2 separate regions of the Homo sapiens genome follow, and region 2 is linked to region 1. Evidence: fine-mapped expression QTL. Tissue or cell type: whole blood. Region 1 holds a variant in brackets; the other region holds the start of a gene. All regions are shown on one strand. Distances are between the middles of the regions.

The links. PIP is the estimated chance that this variant, and not a neighbour inherited with it, causes the effect.
Region 2: it holds the start of POLR3H, and the variant in region 1 is fine-mapped to the expression of POLR3H in whole blood (TOPMed, PIP above 0.99).

What each region holds. Positions count from the first base shown.
Region 1 is chr22:41,394,943-41,403,043 of GRCh38, reverse strand. TEF (TEF transcription factor, PAR bZIP family member) reads right to left here. Exons shown (of 4, transcript NM_003216.4): 4 at 3,718-7,299. The coding sequence ends at 7,084. Among named protein-coding and RNA genes, the nearest start is that of TEF, 17 kb to the right of the region's middle. RefSeq lists a cis regulatory region at 497-510 and an enhancer at 432-576. The variant C/G (reference allele first, on the strand shown) is at 4,250.
Region 2 is chr22:41,539,534-41,547,634 of GRCh38, reverse strand. It overlaps POLR3H (RNA polymerase III subunit H), which reads left to right and starts at 3,165. Exons shown (of 6, transcript NM_001018050.4): 1 at 3,165-3,644; 2 at 6,840-6,936. The coding sequence starts at 3,534. RefSeq lists silencers at 2,975-3,074, 3,265-3,394 and enhancers at 3,445-3,534, 3,545-3,644, 2,967-3,804.

The DNA.
Region 1 (8,101 bases):
CTCTGCCTCTCGGGTTTAAGCAATTCTCCTGCCTCAGCCTCCCAAGCAGCTGGGATTACAGGCGTGCGCCACCACGCTCAGCTAATTTTTGTCTTTTTAGTAGAGACGGGCTTTCTCCATGTTGGTCAGGCTGGTCTTGAACTCCCAACCTCAGGTGATCTGCCCGCCTTAGCCTCCCAAAGTGCTGGGATGACAGGCATGAGCCACCGCACCCAGCCACCTCAAGCTCTTTTATATCCATTCGTGAGGGTGGAGGCCTTACGATGTAAACACCTTCCATTAAGACCCACCTCCCAACACTATTGCATTAGGGATTAAGTTTCCAACCCATATATTCTGGGGAGACATTCAAACCATAGCACCGTCCTGCGTGCTGTACGCTGGGAAGACATAAGAACAGTGAGGAATGGTGCACCGGGCCTTGTGCCTTAAGAGGGAGGGCCAGCTGGAGGCAACACACTGAGGCCCTTGTCCTGTCCCCTCTACCTCTGATCCTTGACCTTTGCCCCGTCCCCTCTACCTCCCTGTAGTCTGGACTTCCTGGAGTCAGCCTGAAATCCAGACCTGAGTGGACGCCCACTACTCTGTTTGGAGAAACCTATGGGACAGCTAGGCAGTGGCTTGCTGTGTGCCTAGCTCCTGATGACAGAGCTGCAGCTTAAAATAAAAGCCTCCTGCTCAGCACTTACTTAATCCTGAGGGGACCGGGCATCAGGACGCATGGTTGCGAGGATTTGCTTAAGTGAGAGGCTGATGAAAGCTCCCTGAGGGCTGGCTGGGGGGTTGGGGCACCCATCTTAAAACCTGTTTCTGATTTCCTTTGCTGCTCACCCCTATCTCTGGCTGGCAGCTTTCCCGGATTAGCTGCTGACGTCAGGAGCTGCCAGCTGGGCCAGCCTGGCACAGCCACGGGGCAGTGTGTGAAGGGCTGTCTGGTAATAGGGTGCAGTAAAGGAAGGGGGCATGTGTCCAGCTTCGGAATTTGTCCTTGAAGGAGCTGGGGTGGAGGGGAAGGAGAAGGGTCGAGATGTGCTGTCAGGCACGCACATGTGACCTGTGTAGCGCATCCTTGTTGGACAGAGAGAGAAACAGCTCAGGGAAATGGATAAGTTGTCCAAGACCACACAGCTGGTCTGACCCTGGCTGCATCCCACACCAGCTGGTAGACAACCCGCGATGGGCAGCAGCTGCTGGGACTGGAGGTGATGGTCTCCATGTAGGTCCGTACCTTCCTCTCTGTCACCATAATGGCAGCTGCTGAGTGGTGTTTGCCCTGCTCCAGGTGTCTTCGTGGGACAACTGTCTTATGAAGCTGGTGTTCGTTTTTGCTTTTGTTTTTTTTTTTTTGAGATGGAGTTTCGCCTTGTTGCCCAAGCTGGAGTGCAATGGCACTATCTCGGCTCACCGCAACCTCTGCCTCCTGGGTTCAAGTGATTCTCCTGCCTCAGCCTCCTGAGTAGCTGGGATTACAGGCATGTGCCACCATGCCTGGCTAATTTTGTATTTTTAGTAGACAGGGTTTCTCCATGTTGGTCAGGCTGGTCTCGAACTCCTGACTTCATGATCCACCTGCCTCGGCCTCCCAAAGTGCTGGGATTACAGGCGTAAGCCACCGCCCGGCCGCTGGTGTTCCATTCTACAGGTGAGAAACTGGAAGCCCAGAGAAGGGAAGTGACTTGCCCACGATCATACCCCAAATTGGTGATGGAGGCAGGGTTTGATCCTAGGACCGTCGGAGTCCAAAGCCAGTGCTCTGCCATACATACAGAGATTTCACAGCTTTGACATGTTTCAAGCCCATGCCCCTGTGCTTGCCGTGGCTGCACAGATCTCCGCTTTGAGAGAGCGCATTTGCATGCAGAGTAGAAAATACAGAGGGGGCCAGGCGCGGTGGCTCACACCTGTAATCCCAGCACTTTGGGAGGCCAAGGTGGGTGGATCACTTGAGGTCAGGAGTTCAAGACCAGCCTGGCCAGGCTGGGCACGCTGGCTCACGCCTGTAATCCCAGCACTTTGGGAGGCCGAGGTGGGACGATCACAAGGTCAGGAGATTGAGATCATCCTGGATGATACGGTGAAACCCCGTCTCTACTAAAAAATCAAAAAAAAAAAAAGTTAACTGGGCTTGGTGGCAGGCACCTGTAGTCCCAGCTACTTGGGGGAGGCTGAGGCAGGAGAATGGCGTGAACCCGGGAGGTGGAGCTTGCAGTGAGCCGAGATCACACCACTGCACTCCAGCCTGGGTGACTGAGCGATAGTCTCAAAAATAAATAAATAAAAATAAAAATATATATATAAAAGAAATATTTGCAGGCTGGGCGTGGTAGCTCATGCCAGTAATCCCAACACTTTGGGAGGCCGGAGGTAGGCGGATTGCCTGAGTTCGGGAGGCCGAGGCGGGCAGATTGCCTGAGCTCAGGAGTTCGAGACCAGCCTGGCCAACATGGTGAAACCCTGTCTCTACTAAAAATACAAAAAATTGGCCGGGTGTAGCAGCATGCGCCTCTAGTCCCAGCTACTTGGGAGGCTGAGGTGGAGAATCGCTTGAACCCGGGAGGCGGAGGTGCAGTAAGCCGAGATCCCACCACTGCACTCAAGCCTGGTGACAGAGCAAGACTCTGTCCCCCCCCCCAAAAAAAATTATAAATGTTTTATAGCCAAAGAACAGGAGAAAAGGAAAACCCTCAAGAGTCCCACCAAGAGGATCCAACTCTTTAGTCCTCTCGGTTTTTTTTGTTTTGTTTTGTTTTGTTTTGTTTTTGAGACAAGTGTCGCTCTATCGCCCAGGCTGGAGTGCAGTGGCGCAACCTTGGCTCATTGCAACCTCCACCTCCCAGGTTCAAGCAGCTCTCCAGCCTCTGCCTCCCAAGTGGCTGGGATTACAGGCCTGCACCACCATGCCCAGCTAATTTTTGTATTTTTAGTAGAGACAGGGTTTCACCATGTTGGCCAGGCTGGACTCAAACGGACTCAAACTCCTGACCTCAAGTGATCTGCCTGCCTCGGCCTCCCAAAGCACTTGGATTACAGGCGTGAGCCACCGTGCCTGTCCTTTCCTTTTTTTTTTTTTTTTTTTAGATGGAGTCTCGCTCTGCTGCCCAAGCTGGAGTGCAGTGGCATGGTCTCAGCTCACTGCAACCTCTGCATCCCAGGTTCAAGCGATTCTCATGCCTCAGCCTCCTGAGTAGCTGGGATTACAGGTGTCCGCCACCACGCTCGGCTAATTTTTTGTATTTTTAGTAGAGATGGGGTTTCACCATATTGGTCAGGCTGGTCTCGAACTCCTGACTTTGTGATTTGCCTGCCTTGGCCTCCCAAAGTGCTGGGATTACAGGCGTGAGCCACCGCGCCCAGCCCTTTCTTTTCTTTACAGAGCTGCCATCACGCATTCTCTATTCGAGAACACTTGTCATAAGCAGTTCCCTGTCTTCTAGTTGTGTAGCACCTTTACCTGTTCAAACTGCTTTTGGTCTAATATTTGTCCCTCCTCAATATAAGCAAGGCGAGAATCACTTCCATCTGATAGATGAGGAAACTGAGGCAGAGTGGTTGGGGTCAGATGCTAAGAGTGTCTGGACTGTGATGAAGGGGGTGTCTGGGGTGGATTCTAATGAGATAAAAGTTTTCCAGCTTGACTCTCCAGCTCCTAGGCCAACACTCAAGAGAGGAAACTCAGGGTTGGGGGTGGGGAGAAGGACAGAAAAGACAATCCCAACATTCTCATTTCAAAATATTTAATTTTGTCTGAAAAGGATACATTCCCGGCTTCCCTCCCACCACATCACTCCGGCCCACCAGCAGTGACACACTCGCACGCACACACGCACATAAGGCCAATGGGCTACGGTCTGCTTCTGCCCTCTCTGGCTGGGAAGAAGGAATTTCTCTCTTGCCTCCTTCCCCCAACAAAGGTAAAGAGAGGGGCCCGCTGGAATGCCAGCTCCCAGGGAAGGACACAGAGCCCCACACACTCTATCACATCACATGCACTTAGAAAAATAAAACCAAGTGGTGTTCTGGCATCCCCAACACCGTAAGAGAGCAATATCCACCTGGAAGTCATCTTTGCCATTTTCTAGAAAAATTTATTGCACTTAATTAGCAGATGTTAAAGGAGCTCTGGAGTAGAGCTTTGCCATGAAAACCAGATGCTCCTCGGCCCTTTGCGTTCCAAGGAGCACGGCTCCCGGGGCCCAGGTAGAGGGCTGCCCAGCTTCAGAGGGGTTTTCCCCCACTGGCTTGCATGCCT[C/G]CCGCCCTGCCTCAGGCCAAAGGACCGTAGGAGCGGCCTGCACAGCCCCTCAGCAGGGTTACATGTACCCAGACTTAAGGTTCACTGCTAAGTGCCCCCTCCAACCTCAGAAGCCAGACAGGAAAACCTCTTCCTTTGGCCAAGGGTAAGAGTTACCCAGGTCCTCCACAAAGTTGCCATAAACCTTGAAAACTCTCCCTCTCTCTAAATGCACACGTTCCTCCATCAGATGAGACATTTATAATATGAATATTCTTGCAAAGTTCCAGCTCATTCATGATTTGTCTGTTCTGAGGTTGCACTGAGGGTGCCACAAAGCTTTAGACAGGATGCTTAGGAAGTAGACGGCACTTCCAAGCCCATCGGGAACCCACAGAAAGCCAAGGTAAAGTCAACTTCTCTAGCCTCCAGTGACTGACAGATGTCAAAGATCCAAGCACAGGAGCCGCAGTCTCCAGCGGTCGGCCTCCAAGAAGCAGAGGGCCCAGGAGGGAGCCGAGGAGACTCCCATTCCCTCGACAGAAACTGAGCAGGCACCAACCCTCTCCTGCAAGCATGGATTTTTTTAGGACAGGAGAGGAGACAACCTTACCTGAGCACTTCTTTTCCCCCACAGGTCAGCCTCTGTGGACATCCTCCATCTTGTCCCCACCAGGCTCCTGACTCAGAGGGGCATTTCGAAAAGAGTCCAGCAGCCACACTCTTTCCAAGTAAGCACTTTGGGAAAGAACCCGATACCCACTGCCTGGGGGAAAGAAGGGAGGGCACCAAACAGGCAGAGGGCGGGATAAAGAGGAGACACATCGAGCCACCATCCCAGCCACCGGGCTCGGAACATGGACACCAGAGATTTAGTGTCCATCCTTAAAAAAATAAAACTGCAAAAACACAAACCATATACTTTCCGGCAAAGAAAATGAAGAGCTTTTAAGCTCAAGGCTCTTCCACTAATAACAAAATGAGAACCGCCCTCTTGGTGATCCACCAGGCCAGAGGGAGCGTGCCCGGGAGGGAGAGCTGCCCGGGGCAGGACACTGACATGCTGGATGCGCCTGCCCTGTGTGGTTACAATAGAGTGAAAGTGTGTACATGGTTTTTAGAGAACCACAAAGTAAAAGTCAGGGGCCTGGAGGGAGGAGTGACCTCCCTTGGCCTCAGGGCCCCTTGTCAAGTCCCCCGGAGAGGTGGGTGTGCAGGTCCCCAAAGGGCCGTGGCATTCCCCTGGGGTGAGGTCCACGGCTTGGTCTTAACGTCTGTTATGAAAAGTCTTTAGAGGTCAGGGCCTGGGACTCTGAACCACCACGGTAAATAAAGCCAGTGTTACGGAGGACGAAGCACGCCCATCGCCTCTGTCTCCTCTTCACCATAGGCTGCCCGCCCTGAGCAAATAAACACACCCATCTCAGGGGTGTCCCAGTGACCCAAATGAGCAGAGGCTTCCATGAGTTTCCTCAGTGAATCTTCTGAGCACAGCAAAAGGGCGAGTCCCGCCACACAAGAGAAAGGAGTCGTTGTGAGGCAGGGGAGACCACAGCTGTGAGAAGCCACAGCATGGCCAGCCTCACGAGTGGCCCCCATCTCCTGGGACCAAGACTGAGGGGACCCTAGGCCTGTGTAAAAGTCCCAAGAGCCTGCTATCCCGTGAAAGTGGCACTGTGACCTTGGTGACTCTAGACTAGGTGTCTTGCCCTGCTGACACCCTCCGGGCAGCTCGCATGGGAGAGATCCTGAAGCAAGAATTGCGAGGCCCCAGCTGCCCCCAGGGAGAGTGCACTCCAGCCCAGGCCACACCGGTGAGCAGAGCAAGAAAAAAGGGAGCTTCTCAAGAAACACACCCCAGCTCTCATGCCCATGGTGGAAGGGGGCTGTGGAGGCATTTTCTAAACACCACTAGGAAGGTGAATCCTGGGGTCCAGGAAGTTAAAGCCTCCTAGATAAGAGGGGTTTTCCTTTTAAATCTATGATCCAAGACTGGACATTGGGTGGAAAGAAAGAGCAGGCCCAGAGGCCTGGTCTAGTGGGACAAACGAGCTTCACATGGCCTCTGAGTAGCCTGGAGAGGAAATGAAGAGGCCTCTCTCAGCCCTGGCACTCATGGCTCAGACAGCAGCCATCCTAGGAGTCTCTCCTCCACAGCCAATGAAATGCAGAGACAGCCGATGGCCTCAGAGCCATAAGGGAAAAGGGGTGCGGGAGCCGAGAAACGCTGGGCACACTTCTGCTGCAGGCCCCAGCCCCAAGCCCCATCCCAGGCTGTGCAGAGACCCCACTCCTGCAGCCTGCTACCCATGCAGACACTGACGGAGGAGCTGGTGTGTCCTGCTTCCAAGGAAGATGGGAACAGATGTTACTCAAAGACTGTCTGGGGAGAATGAGGTGCGTGACAGACACACCTTAAGTGGAAACGCGCCCTGCTACCTGAGAAGACATAGGGTGACAATGATCACAACTCATTCTGCAGAGATAGCCCTCGGCAGCCCAGGCTGGAGACTGAGGGAGAGTCCAGGGACCCTGAGCGCCCAGGAGAGAGGTGTGTACTCCAGAGGTCCCCTTCTGATTCAACTGGGACATCCAAGAATAGAAACTAAGGCTGAGTCACCCATCTACGCAGATTCTCTTGCGTTCCCCACCAGTGAGGAGACTGGCCCCTCAGGGACGTCGCCACGTGCGCAGGCCATGGTATAATGAAGCTGAGACGTGGCCGCTCCTGCAGCAGGTGCGCCGCCATGCGCCCACGACGAGTCATAAGTCTCCACGCGTGTGAGGGGTTACAGGGAGCCCCCAGGCAGAGGTCTGAGGTGCAGGCAGTACCCCGCCCGGGCGGGGGGCACGGGTTACAAGGGCCCGTATTTGGTCTCATACTTGGACACGATGGTCTTGCACTTGCCCACCTCCTTGCGTAGCTCGGCCACCTCCGTCCGCAGGGCTGTGTTCTCCTTCTCCAGGAAGGCTGCCCGGATGGTGATCTGATTCTCTTTCAGGCGCCGGGCATCCCGTGACCGTTTAGCTGCCACGTTGTTCTTCTTGCGTCTTGTCCAGTACTTTTCATCCTGTGGGGAAGTGCCCTCTGTGAGTCTCTCGTCTTTCCCCACGAGAGAACCCAATTTTTCCACTCCCACCACCTGGATTCCCCTAACTCATCTGGTGTGGCCAGAGCTAAAGCAGGGATACCAGGGAGGGAGCAGCACAAACCAGGGCACATTGAGGGCACTGCCCTTTCCTCGGGGGCAGGACGAGAAACAAAAGTTATTTGGTACGTTACATGGTGAAGAGAAGGAGACTCATCTCCTGGAGGCCTGGTACCTGCTGCTCCAGCACAAAGCATTGCACTGTCCACACCCTTGCCTTACTTAGGCATGTTGGTTGTGGGTAAGGGCCTAGATCCCCGAGTTCAGATCTTGGCTCTCCAAGATTACTAGCAGTGAAACTGTGCAAGTACTTTAACCCCTCAATATCACAGGTCCCTTATCTTTACACTGAGAAATAACAGGCCAGGCATGGTGGCTCACACCTGTAATCCCAGCATTTTGGGAGGCTGAGGCAGGTGGATCACTTGAGGTGAGGAGTTTAAGACCAGCCTGGCCAATATGATGAAACCCCATCTCTACTAAGAATACAAAAATTAGCCGGCGTGGTGGTGCACATCTGTAATCTCAGCTACTCAGGAGGGTGAGGCACAAGAATCGGTTGAACCTGGGAGGCGGAAGTTGCAGTGAGCCGAGATCACGCCACTGCACTCCAGCCTGGGTGACAAAGTGAGACTCTGTCTCAAAAACAAAACAAAACAAAAACAAACAAAACAAAAATCAGTGCCTGGCCTACAGTGAGTACCATCTAAATATTCACCATGAT
Region 2 (8,101 bases), 140 kb before region 1:
TTTGGGAGCCCAAGGCGGGTGGATCATGAGGTGAGGAGATCGAGGCCATCCTGACTAACACGGTGAAACCTCATCTCTACTAAAAATACAAAAAACTAGCTGGGCGTGGTAGCGGGTGCCTGTAGTCCTAGCTACTTGGGAGGCTGAGGCAGGAGAATGGCATGAACCCGGGAGGTGGAGCTTGCAGTGAGCCGAGATCATGCCACTGCACTCCAGCCTGGGCGACAGAGCAAGAATCCGTCTCAAAAAAAAAAAAATAGGTTTAGTTGGCTCATGGTTCCACAGGCTTTACAGCAAGCATGGTACTGGCATAGGCTCAGCTTCCAGGGATGCCTCGGGAAGCTTCCCATGATATCGGAAATCAAAGGAGGAGCAGGCACATCACATGGGGAAAAGAGGAGCAAGAGAGAGAGTGGGAGGAGGGAGGTGCTACACACTTTTTTTTTCAAGATGGAGTTTTGCTCTTGTTGCCGAAGCTGGAGTACAATAGCGCGATCTCTGCTCACCAGAACCGCCACCTCCTGGGTTCAAGCGATTCTTCTGCCTCAGCCTTCCTGAGTAGCTGGGATTACAGGCATGCGCCACCACGCCCGGCTAATTTTGTATTTAGTAGAGACGGGGTTTCTCCATGTTGGTCAGGCTGGTCTTGAACTCCTGACCTCAGGTGATCCGCCCACCTTGGCCTCCCAAAGTGCTGGGATTACAGGCATGAGCCACACGCCTGGCCACCACACACTTTTTTTTTTTGAGACGGAGTCTCACTTTGTCGCCAGGCTGGAGTGCAGTGGTGTGATCTCAGCTCACTGCAACCTCTGCCTCCCGGGTTCAAGTGATTCTTCTGCCTCAGCCTCCCAAGTAGCTGGGACCACAGGCGCGTGCCACCACGCCCGGCTACTTTTTTTTTTTTTTTTTTTTTTTTGTATTTTTAGTAGAGACAGAGTTTCACCGTGTTAGCCAGGATAGTCTCAATCTCCTGACCTTGTGATCCACCCACCTCGGCCTCCCAAAGTGATGGGATTACAGGTGTGAACCACCACGCCTGGCCCCGCCACATACTTTTAAATGACCAGATATTGGCTAGTCACGGTGGCTCATGCCTGTAATCTCAGCACTTTGAGAGGCCAAGATGGGGGGGATCACCTGAGGTCAGGAGTTCGAAACCAGCCTGGCCAACATGGTGAAATCTTATCTAAAAATACAAAAGTTAGCTAAGTGTGGTGGTGGGCACCTGTAATTCCAGCTATTTGGGAAGCTGAGGCAGGAGAATCGCTTGAACCCAGGAGGTGGAGGTTGCATTGAGCTGAGATCATGCCACTGCACTCCAGTCTGGGCGACAGAGCAAGATTCCGTCTCAAAAGAAAAAAAAAAGAAAAGGCCTGAACCGAAGCAATAGCAGTGGGAGTGGAATGAAGAGGAAACATTTGAGAGGAAGAATTAATGGTAATCCCTAAACACCTTTACTCAATGCTTCCTAGGAATGTGTTAGGGGATTGTGGGAATAAAGAGCTGAAGTAGCATTTGCTGCTGTCCTCAAGTACCTCAAATCCTATAGAAGCACACCTAAAAATAAAATCATAGATGCAGGGAAGGCCACATTTAGCATCACTGCAGCCAGTGTCACTGAGAGATCACTATGCTTGTGAAATCAGCAAATTAAGGCACCATACATTTCCAAGTGCCTCTGTCATTTACCCCAAGTATCTTTTGTAAGTACCTAAATTGTTATTTTGGTTAAAACACACTACAAGCCCGGGCGCGGTGGCTCACACCTGTAATCCCAGCACTTTGGAAGGCTGAGGTGGGCAGATCATGAGGTCAGGAGATCGAGACCATCCTGGCTAACACGGTGAAACCTCGTCTCTACTAAAAAAAAATACGAAAAATTAGCCAGGCGTGATGGTGGGCGCCTGTAGTCTCAGCTACTCGGGAGGCTAAGGCAGGAGAATGGCGTGAACCCGAGAGGCGGAGCTTGCAGTGAGCCAAGATCGCGCCACTGCACTCCAGCCTGGGCGACAGAGCGATCCTCCGTCTCAAACAAACAAACAAACAAAAAAACCCACTACAGTATACATCTACACCCCACCAATTTTTAGAGGCAGGGTAGTGAGGTTCAGACTGGGCCCACCTCTACCACTTGTCAACACGTGATCTTGGGTAAGCTACCAAATTCTCTTAGCCCATGCTATCACGTGAAGATGAATGAGACTGGAATGTCAGCGAGACAGAGCATGATGGGGCTATAGGAGGGGGGTATGGTCAGATCTTGCAGGGCCGTGTGAACTACCATAAAGGTTTTGGACTTTTCTTCTTTCTTTCTTCTTTTCTTTCTTCTTTCCCTTTTCTTTCTTCTTTCTTCTTCTTCTTCTCCTTCTTCTTTCTTCTTCTTCCGCCTCTCCTTCTTCTTCTTTTTCGTTTAGACATGAGGTGTCACTGTCACCCATGCTAGAGTGCAGCATGCAACCTCAAACTGCAACCTCAAACTCCTGGACTCAAGCGATGCTGCTGTCTCAGGCTTCTGAGTAGGTGGGACTACGGGTGTACACCACCACGCCCGGCTTGGATCTAGTATTCTAAGTTCAATGGGTTGTGTTTTTTGTTCCAATTTATTATAACTTTTCAATTGGAACATAATGTCTACAAATAAATGCAAAAATCTTGCCGAGTTCAATTAGTTTGGACAATTATATACGTCAATGTTATACCACCGAAAACAAAATACAGAACATTTCCATCATCTCAGAACAGTCCCAAGTGCCCCTTTCCTGCTAATTCTCCTTGTCTCCGGAACACTTAAGGGTGCTAAGCATGTTATGTTTGCGGTGGGTTTTTTTTTTAACTTAGATGTGGTAATATATGTTTGCGTTTCCAAAGGATCACTCTGGCTGCCGAGCAGAGGACAGCAATGCGGGTAAAGCACAGGCCAGGCGAGGGATAATCAGGCGGGATTGCACGGAGGTCGCCTAGCAACAGAAAGCGCTGTCGGGGGCGGGGGAACCGCTCTGCTCCTGTGAAAGGAGGAGGCCCCGCCCTCTCCTCGCCCTCTCTCTGCCCCACGCTGTGCGCGAGCACACAGGCAGCCCCGCCCCGCCTCGGCGGGGTGGGGGTGGACAGAGGTTTCTTATTGGTGAGTTTTCCGGAAGCGATGGATTCGGAATCTCGCCCGCAGTCGCGCAAGCGCGAGCGGCTGTGCGCGGTGCGTGGTGCGTGGTGCGTGATACGAGCGGCGGCACGTGGCGCGGGTGCGGGGCGTGGAGTGGCGTGGCGTGGAGTGGCGTGGCGTGGCGGGGTCTCGCGGCGCGGGCGCGCACCCGGAGCTGTGGACGGAGAGTGCCTCCCTCTGGCCTCAGTTTCCTCATGTTGTAGTAGCGGAGCATGGCCCGGACCGGGCCCCCGAGACCGCCCCGTGCAACCTCACCGCCAGCCTGGGGGCCTCAGCGACTGGGACGGGACCAAGGGGCTCGGGGATTCTCCCTGCCCCCGGCCCTGGTGCGTGACTGACCCTCCTGTTCCCAGAGCCCCCAGCGCAGGCCGGGATGTTCGTCCTGGTGGAAATGGTGGACACCGTCCGGATCCCCCCTTGGCAGTTTGAGAGGAAGCTCAACGACTCCATTGCCGAGGAGCTGAACAAGAAGTTGGCCAACAAGGTACTGGGCCCACGGCTCGCGGGCAGGCCTTGGCGTGGGAGAGCGAGCGCCGCCCACTGGCCGCAGGCCCGGCCTCGGTCATGCCAAGCCCTGGCCGTGGGCAAGCAGCTTAATGTCTCAGAACTTTTCTTCACCGTGAAAGGAGATATTGAAGGGGATCAAAAGAAAATGGGCTTGAAAAAGGGAGTTGTAACTGGAAGTGTTAGATTCCACAATTCTAAATTACTTTGCAATTGCAGGCAAGTTACTGACCCCTTCTGGGCCTCAGTTTCCATTTTTAAAATGGGGATAAAATATTGCTGTCCTTCCAGCCATGCATTGTTTTTGTTGTTGTTGTTGTTTGTTTTGTTTTGTTTTGTTTTTTGTTTTTGAGACGGAGTCTTGCTCTTTCGTCCAGGCTGGAGTGCAGTGGCGCGATCTCGGCTCACTGCAACCTCCGCCTCCCGGGTTCAAGCGATTCTCCTGCCCCAGCCTCCCGAGTAGCTGGGACAACTACAGGCGCGCGCCACCACCCCCAGCTAATTTTTGTATTTTTCGTAGAGACGGGGTTTCACCATTTTGGCCAGGATGGTCTCGATCTCTTGATCCCCCCGCCTCGGCCTCCCAAAGTGCTGGGATTACAGGTGTGCGCCATCGCCTCGGGTCAATGCATTGTTTTCGTGAAGATGGAGAGTTCTAGTAGTACAGAATTAACTGTCAGGAGGTTCATCCCTTCATTCCAGCAGCCAATATTTGTGCGCCTTCTCTGTGCTGTGCCTGTGTGCCTTAGTACCAGCTGAGAGGTCTTCCCACTGCCGTTTCTTTGACAGTCCTCCCTTTCCAGGTATTCTGTGTCACATCACTCTCTTTCCTTCTTAGACTTTTTCCTTTCCCTCTCCTTGAGAGCAGGGACCTTATCTGCCTTCTTCCCTGAAGTATCCCCTCATTTAGCCAAAGCCTGGCGGGAGTAGATGTCCCATAATTTTCTGTTTTGTGTTTGTGTGTGTGAGACAAGAGTGCCGCTCTTGTCGCCCAGGCTGGGGTGCAATGAAGCGATCTTGGCTCACTGCAACCTCCACCTCCCAGGTTCAAGCTATTCTTCTGCTTCAGCCTCCTGAGTAGCTGGGATTACAGGCACCTGCCACCACACCTGGCTAATTTTTGTACTTTTAGTAGAGACGGGGTTTCACCATGTTGGCCAGGCTGGTCTCAAACTTCTGACCTCAGGTGATCTGCCTGCCTCAGCCTCCCAAAGTGCTGGAATTACAGGTGTGAGCCACCGTGCCCGGCCATTTGTTGACTGAATGAATGAAACAGAGACAAGGCTCTGTGCTATAGTGTGGTGGGAAAGCAGATATGAATGAGAAGGGTCCACAGTTGAGTGTTTGGTGACAAATTGAGGTAAATGTTATGAGGGACAGGTGTTCACACACCTGTGGAACAAAGGAACGTCCCCTGGAATGAGGGGACCTGCAGCTTTGTTGAGGAGGTGGGGTTGAAGGTGAGATCTGATGGTGAAGTGGAGCCAACCAGAGGATTCCTTTCTAGGGTGGGAGGGGGCTGGGTGGAGAGAAGAGCCCTGAAGGCAGGAACTGGCATGTGCAAAGGCCCTGTGAAGAAGGAATACAGGCCGGGCGTGGGGGCTCACACCTGTAATCCCACCACTTTGGGAGGCTGAGGCGGGTGGATCACCCAAGGTCAGGAGTTTGAGACCAGCCTGTCCAACATGGTGAAGCCCCATGTCTACTAAAAATACAAAAAATAGCTGGGCATGGTGGCAGGCACCTGTAATCCCGGCTACTTGGGAGGCAGAGGGAGAAGAATCACTTGAACCCAGGAGGCAGAGGTTGCAGTGAGCTGAAATCGCACCACTGCCTTCCAGCCTGGGTGACAAGAGTGAAACTTCGCTTCAAAAAAAAAAGAAGAAGGGGTAAAATACCCACCATGGTGTGGAAGAGGCTGGTGTGGCTTGGGCAGAGGGGAGGGTGGGCTGGACAGGTGGGTGGGGGCCAGGCCACACAGCCCTGTAGGATGTCGGAGTTGAGGTATTGGTCTTTATCCGTGGAGCATCAGAAGGTGATGGGCTGAGAAGGAGCCAGAAAGAGGATGCTTAGCTGGCTTTACGCATGAGACAGGTCCCTTCAGAAGAGGTGAGGTTGATTTGGGGGTTGCTAGATAGTGAAGGGAACTCATGGAGTCTTTAAGTGGATGGCTTCTGGTTACTTTGTGAGGTTGAAGATGAGGGTCTGTTGGGGGATGGAGGTGTGGACCTTGAGAGAGAAGGTGTGGAAAGTCCAAGAAGGGAATATAGTCCCTTTGGGGTAGAGGTCCTGTTGGGACAAGTCTTCTAGTATTTGATTAGATGAATCGTTTGAGAGGGGGCCCACACAGAAATCCATGGTCTGACAAAGGGCACAGATCTTGTGGCATTATCTTGGTGAGGTCTGGCCACGACTCTGAGTTCTCTGAGCTTCTTGCTAATTCTTGGACAGTTCTTGCAAGGGTTCTAAGTGGGGGTGATGACACGGTGGCAGATAAGGAGACACTGAGTAGCCAGTCGTTTGAACCACAGTGGTGTGGGGTGAGGGCATGGGATTTCTGCACATTCTTGGGGCCTAGGTCTTGTGTCCCTCTGCCAGCTGCAGTCCCTGTGGCTGCGTCTGTGTGTCTGAGATGTTGTGAGCACAGTGGGGTTTAGCTGTGGCTGTGACGCTCACTAAACTGTGAGCTCTGGCATTGGCTTTGGGATGTCGGAGAGTGCACGTTTAGGCAGCATTCCTGTCACTGGTCCTCACTAGTAATAACAAAGATCCTTGATGATGATGGTTTCCAATACACGAGCCAGGTACAAGGCTAGGGGCTTCACATCTGTTATCTCTCTTTATTTTATAACTCTGCAGCCTGGTATTTCACATTTGCAGATGGGGAGACCGAGGCTCAGAGAGGTGAAGTGACCCTCTTGGCAGTCACACAGTGGGTGGTGGAGCTGGCCTTGGAACCTGGACCTGTTTTGTCACCCGAGGCCCTGCTCCTTCCAGAGCTCTGCATCCTTCTGAGGTTCCTTACCCTGGTCCCCTCCACAAACTCATTTTCACCTAAAAAAGGAGATAATCATGGCTTGCTTGTGGTTGTGAGGGGCTCAGATTGCCTGGGAGCTGGGCCTGTGGTCACTCTGTATCCATGTGTACTTGTGTGTCTGTGTTTGTATGCATGCAGGTCGTGTACAACGTGGGACTCTGCATTTGTCTGTTTGATATCACCAAACTGGAGGATGCCTATGTATTCCCTGGGGATGGCGCATCACACACCAAAGGTGGGTATCTTCTGTCCCTGGGGCATTGGGCTTCTTGGGGCTCAGTTTTCTGTAGCCAAAGGTCAAGCCAAATCCAGGTTCAGTGGTGCGTGCCTGTAAGGCTGAGGGCGGAAGGATCTCTTGAGCCACAGAGTTCAAGGCCAGCCTGGGCAACATAGCAAGACCCTGTCTTTAAATACATAAATAAAATATGAAAAAATTTTAAAAGGCTAAAGTCAAAGAGATGGCCAGAGGGTGGTGGGAGTCCTGGAGGCTGGGAGACGTGGGGCCTCATCCTGAATCGGCCAGGAATTGACCCGGTGACAGCGGCAGACTTCTCTTCTCTGGGCCTCTGTTCCCTCATCTGTGAGGCCTGGGATGTGGACTAGTTGGTTTTCAAGGCCTCTTCAGCTCTGACTTCATAGCTCTGTGTCTGTGCCCTTTTGGTCTCATTGCTACTGAGCCCTGCACCTTGTCCATTCCTCGGGCTTCCCGCTGCCTGTGGAGAGCAGACGGAAGGGGGATCAGCAGGCTGGCTGGGGGTGGGGGACTTGGATAGTAGGACACAGTAGGTAAGAGTGTGGCCTCAAGATTAAAAGCTGAGCTCTGCTTCTTACTAGCTGTGTGTCCTGGCTGAATATGTCATTGCTCTGTGCCTCTGCTTCCTTATCTGTCAGTTGCAGTTCAGGATGTCAACTGCAGTTTAGGATAGATTTTATATTCTAAGACCATTGTGAGGATTAAGGAGTTAATACATGAAAGCTCTTAGGACAGAGCCTTGGCACCTAACGAGCACTCAGTGACTTATCAGCGTGGATTGTTTCTCCCTATTCTGTCGGTCAGTTGGGTGGTTTTCCTCTCATCTGGCTGGCCTGGGGCTGGACAATCTAGGACGGTCTCACATTCTGAAGGTTGGCAGACTGGTTGGTTACTGGGGGCCTGGGCTGGGCTGGCCCATCTCTGCCCCACATGGTCTCATCTTTCAGTAGGCCAGGCTGGGCTTGGCGGTTTTAAGGTTCCAAAGTTCAGTGCGTAAGTACTTCTCAAGCCTCTGCTTCCATCCCGTTGGCTAGGGTGAGGGGATGGAGAAATAGACTTCACCTCTGGGTGGGAGAAACTGCAGTCACATTGCAAAAGGGTGTGCATCCAGGAATGGAAGGTGATCACCAGATCCTGGAAGGAGGGA